Linked DNA regions of Homo sapiens. The protein of the gene in region 2 interacts with the protein of the main gene of each other region in a pairwise test. Each region holds a gene or a part of one and is shown on either strand. Other genes may lie near its edges. The genes, in order: FH and DGCR6.

Region 1 (5,959 bases), on a different chromosome or scaffold from region 2:
CGAGGGCAGGGCCTGCATCTTTCTTATTCAGTGTTGTATATTGAGTGCCTGGCTCCATAAATATGTATAGAATGAATGAAAATCATGAAGGTGGAGAACTATATTTAATGTGTAGTTGTGGCTACTCGTTAGCCTTTGAATGATTCATTTTGTGGCTACCCATCCCACCTTCCTTGGTTGGTTTGTTTCATTAAATTACACTGATGGTTGGGCCTTGCTTTATTGTATATCTTACTCTATTTAGTGAAATTAGATTTCTTTATTCTCCTGATTATTTGCATAAATTTAGTCTTTACTCTGTCATTGGTGGTTTTCTTGAAGGCAAGGTGAACCCTACTCAGTGTGAAGCAATGACCATGGTTGCAGCCCAAGTCATGGGGAACCATGTTGCTGTCACTGTCGGAGGCAGCAATGGACATTTTGAGTTGAATGTTTTCAAGCCAATGATGGTAAGCTTTAAATCTGATTTTTAATGTTTTTTGACCAAAGGCTTATTATCTTGGTTTTGTATTTCATAAAGACTTCTAGTGATTCCACATTGGGTAGTTGGGTGACATAAGTAGCAGTTGGAAGTCAAGCATTTATTAAGTTACCAGAATAATCCTAGATAATAGAAATTAGTTGACTTTTAACCTAAGCAATTTGATGTTTTTTTTAATAGCCCGTTTAAGAAAAATAAAATGCCTCCCTACAAGCCTGTCTCCTTCTCATGCTGCTGCTTTCTTCTTCAAATTCAGTCTTCTTGGAAGGATAGCACATACTCACTTTCATTTATGCTGTAGTCACCACAGCCCAGCATGGCCCCCTCCACGCTTGAATTATTCTCCCATTCATTGGTGACTACCTCAGTCCAGCTGGCATTGCGCAGTTAGTTCTTCCCTTACTAATAGTTGATGTTGACTGTCCCTCCTTGAAACATTCTTCATCCCTGCTTTCTTGAACATTTTTTCACCAGTTCTTCTTCTGCCCCCTGTCAGACTTCGTTTCATTGTCTGGCTTTACCTTTCCACATACTTGAAAACATTGTGTCCACCCAAACCGTTCTTTTTCTTTCGTCTTTACGAAGATCGATAGATGCATCGCGCCATTTCTCATCAGTTTCCTCAGCTGCAGATAGTGGAGCTGTTGCCATAATTTAGAGTCCTTCATTTGGACAAAGTGTTATAGCTAAAGTAGAGTAGGGGCTTACTTTCTCTTGGAATCTCTTCTAAATTCTAATTTTAATTTTATAAGAATATGCAAATGACAAATATGGAGTATATTTAATATATTCACTAAATATTTATTGAGTACCATTTTCTATCAGGCACTGTACTGGATGCATAATAGAGATAGAGCAATGAAAAGACAGATTTCTTGCTCTCATGGAATGTATATCCTAGTGGTAAATAAAAACACAGGCCAGAGCAGAACTCAGACTGTTAAAATTTTGCTCTCAGGTCAGATTCCAAACAGTTAACACGAGATACCCAGCATTTATAGGTGCATAACAATAAATGCCTTGTTAATCTTTTTAAAATTTTATTTTTAATGTAAAATAAAGATAATCAATATTTGCCTTATTACAAGGTCATTAGTAGCAAATTAAAACTTAGATTATATGTCTTAGAGTCCATTGTTGGAAGTCTAGTTTTCAGACCGGAGTTTTAGACCAGAGGATATTAGGATTTGGATATATCTTAATAAATATTGGAAATGTTGCCAACAAAGCCAAAACAAACTAATTGATTTTATACTGTTTTTTAATATTATATGAAAAGTTATTTTACAGTGACTGGAGTATTCGTTAAAGCATAGAAAACCTAGAAATTTGGTGATCATTAGATTTTGCCCTGACTTTACTAATTGCCTCACACTCATACTGAACTTTCGAACCTCTGCATCTTTGCTCCTCTTCCTTCTGCGTGGAAGATTCTTTTTCCTTCTCTGGCCAAGTCCTCTCCATAAAATAGGATTTCACCAGTTCCGACAACTGGAGTTAATTTCTCTTTCTCTATGGTCTCTAACACTTCAGACCTCTGTTTTAAATACTTGCTATGGGCTATTTTGTGTTTTAGTCATTTGTATTTATGTCTTTTTCACCTTTTTTAGATTTCTGTGCCTTCAAATGTTCATGCTTTCTTTCACATTTGTTTCCTTGGTTATAGTGCCTTAAAATTTGTAGAAGATCTATATGTTTATTGAATTGTATATTTACTGTCAACCAGAAAATAATATGTTATTGGACAAAAAACATGTTGCCTTAGTAATGTCTCTCTCTCTCTCTCTCTCTCTCTCTCTCTCTCTCTCACTCACTCAAAGATTAAAAATGTGTTACACTCAGCCAGGCTGCTGGGGGATGCTTCAGTTTCCTTTACAGAAAACTGCGTGGTGGGAATCCAGGCCAATACAGAAAGGATCAACAAGCTGATGAATGAGTCTCTAATGTTGGTGACAGCTCTCAATCCTCATATAGGTAAGTGTTTAAGGAATAATAATATCATTTTGAATGCAAAATTAAAAAGCTAAACCATTTTTAAGAGACAAGTGGATCAGTGTTTGAGAACAGCAAATTTCTTTTGAATATGGTTTTAGTAAAATCTCAAAATATTTGAAATTGTGTGGAAAGGTACTATATAACTTGTATGGTGTCATAGTTCTTTCAAAACTAGATCTATTATGCCTCATTTTATTTGAAATGTATCGAGAAGTAGTAGTTCAAACTTATTTTGATTTTAATGGAATTCAGACGCCAAATATTCTATGCAGACCATTGGGGAAGGTTATTTGTAAGACCTTCAGTGGGTAATGTCACTAGGTGGCACTGCTGATTAGCAACATTGAATGAACTCATTTTTCTACCTTCCCTAGATCTCTACAATGCTTTAATTTTGTTGTTTTATTCAATTCAGAAATGGAAAGTTACAATTAAAAGAAAAAGTTTATGTATTCATTGCTTATAGTGAAAGGGAGGAAGGAAAATGCAAATATTTTGTCTAAAACCATGCTATTGTATTATAAGTCTTTTTTGGAACTGTAAATATTTCATTATGTAGAATCAAACATACAGATTTGGGTAGTAGACTGACCATAGAGATCTCCATTAAATAAACTGTTTACACTTTTGTAGATTTTGAGGCATTATGTTGCATTATATTATGATGTGTTAAAAGCCTTTTACCCATTCTTCCTTTCTGCTAAGCAGAGGTTAATATATTTTCTGCCTTTCTGTTATAGAACAAGTTATGATTCACTTATTTGGCATAATATGGCTACTGCTTCTTCTATAATCTTGAACTTTCAAGGCAAATTTTATATTCCTGGTTTCACATCAAGCTATAATTACAGTTTTTTAAAATTAGAGCTCATTTGACTCTTTTAGGTAGCTCTGAGCCCAGTATGATATCAGTTTTTTGGTGTGGCATTGAGATTGGTAATAATGTTTGATCCATTTAAAATTATGGTACATCAACTACATCTGGAAAAACACAAAGGGGAACCCAGAGGCTCGTGTGAGCAGTTTTCATCAGATCTTTACTTCAGAATGTGTTACCAAAACTTTAAATTAGAGGTGTCTCCTAAAGTTGAATGATTGGCAAATCTTTATTGGAATCAACTTATTGTGACATAAAAAGAATTGTTAGAGGCCATATGAGAATGAGATGGGTCAACACCACCTCACTAGTTGACTTGGTGTGAGCCTTACAACCCTCTGAATCATGGGTTCCCTATATTCTCATTATGTACCAGGCTGGTTGCCAATAGTGTCTTGTTGGACTTGACAGCTGAAATGCTTAGACTTTAAAGCCATTATTAAAATAAAAGTACTGGATATATATTGATCTCAAGAGTTTAACATGCAAATTCTTTCTCAAAGCATTTCTGCTTTAAGAAAGATGCCCTTTTCAGTAAATGGCATCAATAAATGCCCTTTCAGATCAATAAATGCCCTTTTCAACATATTTAGCATTCACAAATTCAGTTAAGTAATAAAAGTAACTATGCCCATGCTTTCTTTTATAGCTGATTAATAATTGCATATTGACACATGCCATCTTATTGATGATGTATACTGCCTCAGCAAGCTTCTTCCTTTTGGTCATATTTCTCTGATCTTGTTTTTTTTCTCCCGCATTGGTTTCATTTTCATTCCTGCTTTTTCTTCTTGACATATATATATATATATATATATATATATATATATATATATATATATATGTTAAGACAGCTTGCAGAACTGCCCTGCCCCCACTTTTATTAATTTGAAAAGCAAATAACTCTGAAGTAAACAGTATGCCTGTGATCTTTTGTGCAGTCTGTATTTCTGCCCAGACTCCCTATTTGTGTCCCTGTAATGTCTGGGAGGAGGCCAGGGTATAGAAGCCATTGCAGTGGAGAGCCACATAGAGAAGAGCCATTGGAAGCAGCTCTGGAGGCACCCCTCCCCAGGCCCTGCCTGCGCCTGCCTCACTGCGAGGACTTCTCCCCTCTCAGAGCCACTCACCACAGTTGCCAGACGTGCAGTGCTTTATTTTCTGCTGGACTGGAGCATTTAGCTTGTTAATGTTTCTTTAGAAAGATAATTGTTTCTAGTTAAACATGTTGTTTGAAAAATATACCCAGATGTATATTTTTATGTCGTGGTGCTATAATTTCTACTTTTTTCCCCTTCAAAATATCTAAGTTACTGGAAAATTTCAACTTAGGAACAAATCTGTTGGAGAAAGTGAGGTATGTTTAAGTGTTTATTTCTTAAGGAAAGTAAATGTTCTACATAAAAAATGATTATTGAGATAATCACTGTTAACTAATTTAAAAACAAAAAATGTCATTTAAGAGGCCCATATAGCATCAATATCAAGTAAACAATTATGTCACCTTTTGCTTTAGGAAACCAAATATCACTGCTAACCCATATGTCGTCTTTTTATTTTTTCTTCAGGGTATGACAAGGCAGCAAAGATTGCTAAGACAGCACACAAAAATGGATCAACCTTAAAGGAAACTGCTATCGAACTTGGCTATCTCACAGCAGAGCAGTTTGACGAATGGGTAAAACCTAAGGACATGCTGGGTCCAAAGTGATTTACATAAATTTATAATGAAAATAAACATGTATAAAATTTAAAAAAACAGACTCCCATTTCTTAAAAACGGATAAGTTTGAAAGGAAACTGCTATTGAACTTAAGCATCTCTAGCAGAGCAATTTGATCAGTATATAAAACCCTAGGATGTGCTAGGTCTAAGATGGATTAAACAAGTATAAAATAAAATACATTTATAAAATAAAAAGGAAAACAGACTTAAATTTTCTCCTATGTTAATTGACTTGTATTATAGTTGAATCTATGATATTTGTGCATGTTGTCTTTGTGACTTCATAAGTTACCAATTTCTAAAGGGTTTTAATTTTGGAGGTTATTGGTGGTTTAAAAAATTGCCCGATTATATCTTATTATCTCATTCCCAAACTATGTCCTTAGCCATCTTTTATTTTCCTTTGATTTGGAGACACAGTGACCAAGCCCTTTTGAGTGGGGATGTGTATATGTGTGTGTGTGTGTGCACGCACGTGTGTGTGTGTGATAGAATAGGTTAAGAAAATTGGGACATACATATCCTGTGTGTTAAACACACACCTATCCCTCCAACCTTGTTTCTGTTACCACAGAGGGACCAGATCAAGGCCAGGCATGGTGGGTCAGGGACACCGACTTTAGGAGACTGCGCTTTGGGAAACTGAGGCAGAAAGATCATTTGAGCCTAGGAGTTTGAGACCAGCCTGGGCAGCATAATGAGATCCCTATCTCTACAAAAAATAAAACAAAAATTAGGCAGGCTTGGTAGTGTGTGCCTGTAATCCCAGCTACTCAGGAAGCTAAGGTGGTAGGATTCCTTGAGCCCAGGAAGTTGAGGCTGCAGTGAGCCAAGATTGCACCCCTACACTCCAGCCTAGGTGACAGAGTGAGACCCTGTCT
Region 2 (3,575 bases):
GAGAGCCCTTTGCCCTCACACAGGGTCAGCTCTGGGCAACAAAGAGGGAGTGGCTCAGACAGGGTCAGAGAAGTCTCATCCCAGACTCTGGCTTCCAGCATCATCTGTTCCTGGGGGCCAGGCCCTGCGCAGACCTGGCCACCCAGGGTGCTGGACACCCCCAACCCTGACTCCACAAGGACCCAGCAGGGCCCATGGGCCCAGGCCAGCACGGAGGGGACTCATGCAGATGCAGAGGCCAAGCTCCCCAGGTGGGCCTGGCACGCCTCCCCGCAGGGCTCCTCCTCAGGCCATTCCTGCCACCCTGAGTCCTCTACCCCAGTGACCTGCATCAGGCTCCTCCTAGTGGTTCCCACAGGACACTGACCAGGCTGCGGCAGGCGCATACTTGCACTTCGGGCCTTCTCCCATGCTCTCCAGCCCCCAGCCCCACAAAGCAGGCTGGATGTGGTCCTCATGCCCTGGGGCTTGGATGGGGGCCCCTGTACAGATGGCAGTGACAGCATCCTGGGACCAGGGCTGGGGCAGGAAAGGCTGGAGGGTCCCAGTCTCCAGGCAGGGGGAGGGGTGGTGGGCTGGGCACACAGCCCAGGAAGGGGCCCCCAGGTAGAGGCCTCTGCTGCAACAGAGGTGGGGGCCCTACCAGGGCCCCGGTTATGGCAGAACCTGCAGCTATCACACAAGCCACATGCGGGCCACACTGAGGCATCTTTATTTCTCTGGGTCACACAGAGCTTGGGCCTGGGAGCCTCTTCTGCATGGGGGCTGCAGCTGCCAAGGGAGCGGCTGAGACCAGAACAAGCGCTCGAGTGGGCCCCAGTGCAGGTTGGGATGTGCCCGGTGGAGTAAGGTGTGAGAACCCCCAGCCTCACTCTCTGCCTGGCCCTGAAGCAGACAGCAGCAGGCTGGCCCAGCCTCCCCTTTATGAGACTATCCTAGGGTTTGACAGCAAGTCCCAGATGAAGGGTGACAGGCAGCTGGGGTCCACCTGGTCTCTCCTCAGCAGGGGGAACCCCCTGCGGGCAGCTGGGAAGGCAGTGGCCAAAGGTCAAGAAGATGAACTCTGCCCAGACTTCTGCTGCCTGTGGCTATGGTGGGACAGGGCTGCCTTTCTGGTCACACTGGGCAGCAGGCAACTGCCAGGGACCTCCTAGCCCCAGGGCTGCCTTCCCTGCCCAGCAGCCCCTCTGCTGCAGCTTCCGGATGAGTTCCAGCAGGTTCATCTGCAGCATCAGCTCCTGGGATACAGAGGGGCCCCATGAAGGCCAGAGTGACCCCCAGGCCCCTTTCATCCCGGCCCAAAGGTGCCAGGCAGTGAGCCCACGGGGCGACCATCCTGTGAAGCCTGGTCATGGCCTGCTACGACAGGGTGGAATCTGAGCTTCTGCCCCCAGCAGGGCCACTCGGAATCTGAGCCTCTGCCCCCAGCAGGGCCACTCGGAATCTGAGCCTCTGCACCCAGCAGGGCCACTTGGAATGGCATGCGGGAGGGGAGCAGAAGAGGGCCCTGTGGGGCACAGCAGGCCTGGGGAGGGTGGGCAGTGCCCATGGCTGGCTGGCTCACCCCCCTGTAGGGAATGGGCCTGGCCTCCATGCTGGGAATGGCACAGAAATCCTTTCCAGAGCCTCAATCCTTCCACTTCACCCCCTATACCCTGAGCCTGGCTCCCCAGGGACCAGCAGTGAAATCCCAGATGGAATGGGGCCCAGGGGCACTCGGGCTAGGACAGAGCAGGCCCAGGCACTGACCTGTGGGTTGGTGGTCACGTAGAAGCCAGCCACCCCCGCCTTCTCCAGTGTGCTCTGCTGGTCAGCCACCTTCCGGTCCAGCTCCAGGACGATCTTCTGGTCCATCGCCCGCTGCTCCTCACGGATCCGGTGCTCCACCGCCTGCCGTGGGGCCGGGGGCGGCGGGGGAGGTGAGGGCAGCTCAAACACATGCTCCTGCTGCTGTCCCCAACAGCACCAGCTCTGACACCACCAATGCATCCTCACCACACCCAGGCCTCTCCTCGGCCAAGTGAACCCCTGAAGGGGGCCCCAAGGGGCTTCCACGAATGCTTTGACTTGGGACTGCCTTGGGACCACACACACATCTCCGCAGGCACACCCTGCCCCATGACTTGTTGGTTACATGCCGGTCTCTGGTTGTCCCTGTGCTCCCGGGGAGAAGGATGGGCCCCTTCCTGGCTGGCCCCATCACCCCACCATTGCCTTTGTACCCCCCGAGGCCACCTGCTCTGCGGAGACCCCAACCCACGAGGGGCACTAATGGACTCCAGGGGAGCACTGGTGGGTTCTCACCCTCCACCCAGTCCCAGCACACCTGGCACCCTCAGCGAGGAGCCACCTGGTGGGACTCACTAGGCCTCCAGTGTCCCACTCAGGCCCAGGGTAGCCACCCACACCTGAGCCCCCCACACCCCTTCAGCTCAGCCCAGTCAGCAGAGCCAGGTGGTGCCCACAGGAGAGCTGGGCCGGCCACCCTGCCTGCGTCCCCAGTACCTCTAGTTCTCGCTGCTGAGCCGCCTGAAGCACAGGCAGGTTATGGGGCCGGCAGGCCTGCTGGGCTTCCTGGTGCTTCTGCCGCAGCGCCTGCCTGAGCACTGGGAGGGATGAGAGCCCGTCAGCAGGCGGTGGGACTCGGCAGCAGCCCTCACCCATGGGCACCTGCCTTACCAACCCAGCAGAGCAGCCAGGCCAAAGGGGTGTCTGCACTGGGGAGGACGCCAGCCTCCTCCATCCTCCCACCCCACTGTCACGGCAAGTCTCCAGGGGATTCCAGAAGGTGCGGGGCACTGAAAGAGAGTGGGGGTGGGGAAGACTGGCCAGGTGGGGCCAAAGCTGCAGCCCCAGACCCAGGGCAGCTGGAGGGGGCAGGCGGGAGGGAGGCTGCAGTCTGAGGGCTTCAGGGCCCCCGTGGCCACAGGCCATAGGACATCTACTCAAGTGTTGGAGACCACCTCAGGCAAAGGCATGGGAAAGGAGCAGGAGGAGCCGGGTCGCTGACCCTGAGCGTGGGGCCTCTGCCTACCAGGTGTGTGGTTGGCCCCTCCACCCTTGGTGCTGCCCTTCAGGGTGGGCAGCCCCCTCCCCCATTTGCAGCTCCCAGCCCCTACACAGCACCAGAGGGAGAAGGGTGAGCTGACCTGGGAGGCCCAAGTTTGGGATGAACCTGGGGTGTCATAAGCCTGTGAGGCTCTGGGCCAGGGAGTCTGTGTGGCTTTGAGGGGCTCACCCTCGGCCACCAAGCAAAGCTCCACGGTCCCTGCTAAACTGTGCACAAACACAGATGTGCAAACTCTAGTCTGAAGGGAGTGTACAGAGGAAGCGATCATGGGACATAAACCATCATGGCAAAATGGAACATGGAGCACCCCGCAGCTGGCGCCAGTGCATTAAGTGCCAAATGGCTACAGTTCCCCAGGAAGGAGGGGTCCCTGGCCACAACAAAACGTGAAATCCAACACTCTGTTCCTGGGAAGAGCCCTGATGTTGCAGCTCTTCTCTGGTGGCAAGTCTCCAGGGAACTCCACGGCCCCTGAGGCTCCCCTGCAGGTAGCCTGGCTCCAGCT

What was found.
Region 1: the proteins of DGCR6 (region 2) and FH interact in binary tests that used the Homo sapiens proteins (3 or more experiments, as listed by UniProt).

Annotation. Positions count from the first base shown.
Region 1 is NC_000001.11:241,496,933-241,502,891, reverse strand, and holds the end of FH (fumarate hydratase, mitochondrial), read left to right. Parts: intron 1-321; coding exon 322-449; intron 450-2,301; coding exon 2,302-2,455; intron 2,456-4,921; coding exon 4,922-5,064; 3' UTR 5,065-5,289; downstream 5,290-5,959. UniProt on the Homo sapiens protein: Catalyzes the reversible stereospecific interconversion of fumarate to L-malate. Experiments in other species have demonstrated that specific isoforms of this protein act in defined pathways and favor one direction over the other.
Region 2 is NC_000022.11:18,909,203-18,912,777, reverse strand, and holds the end of DGCR6 (protein DGCR6), read right to left. Parts: intron 2,799-3,575; coding exon of another isoform or gene 2,680-2,798; intron 2,607-2,679; coding exon 2,506-2,606; intron 1,891-2,505; coding exon 1,750-1,890; intron 1,239-1,749; coding exon 1,089-1,238; 3' UTR 690-1,088; downstream 1-689. UniProt on the Homo sapiens protein: May play a role in neural crest cell migration into the third and fourth pharyngeal pouches.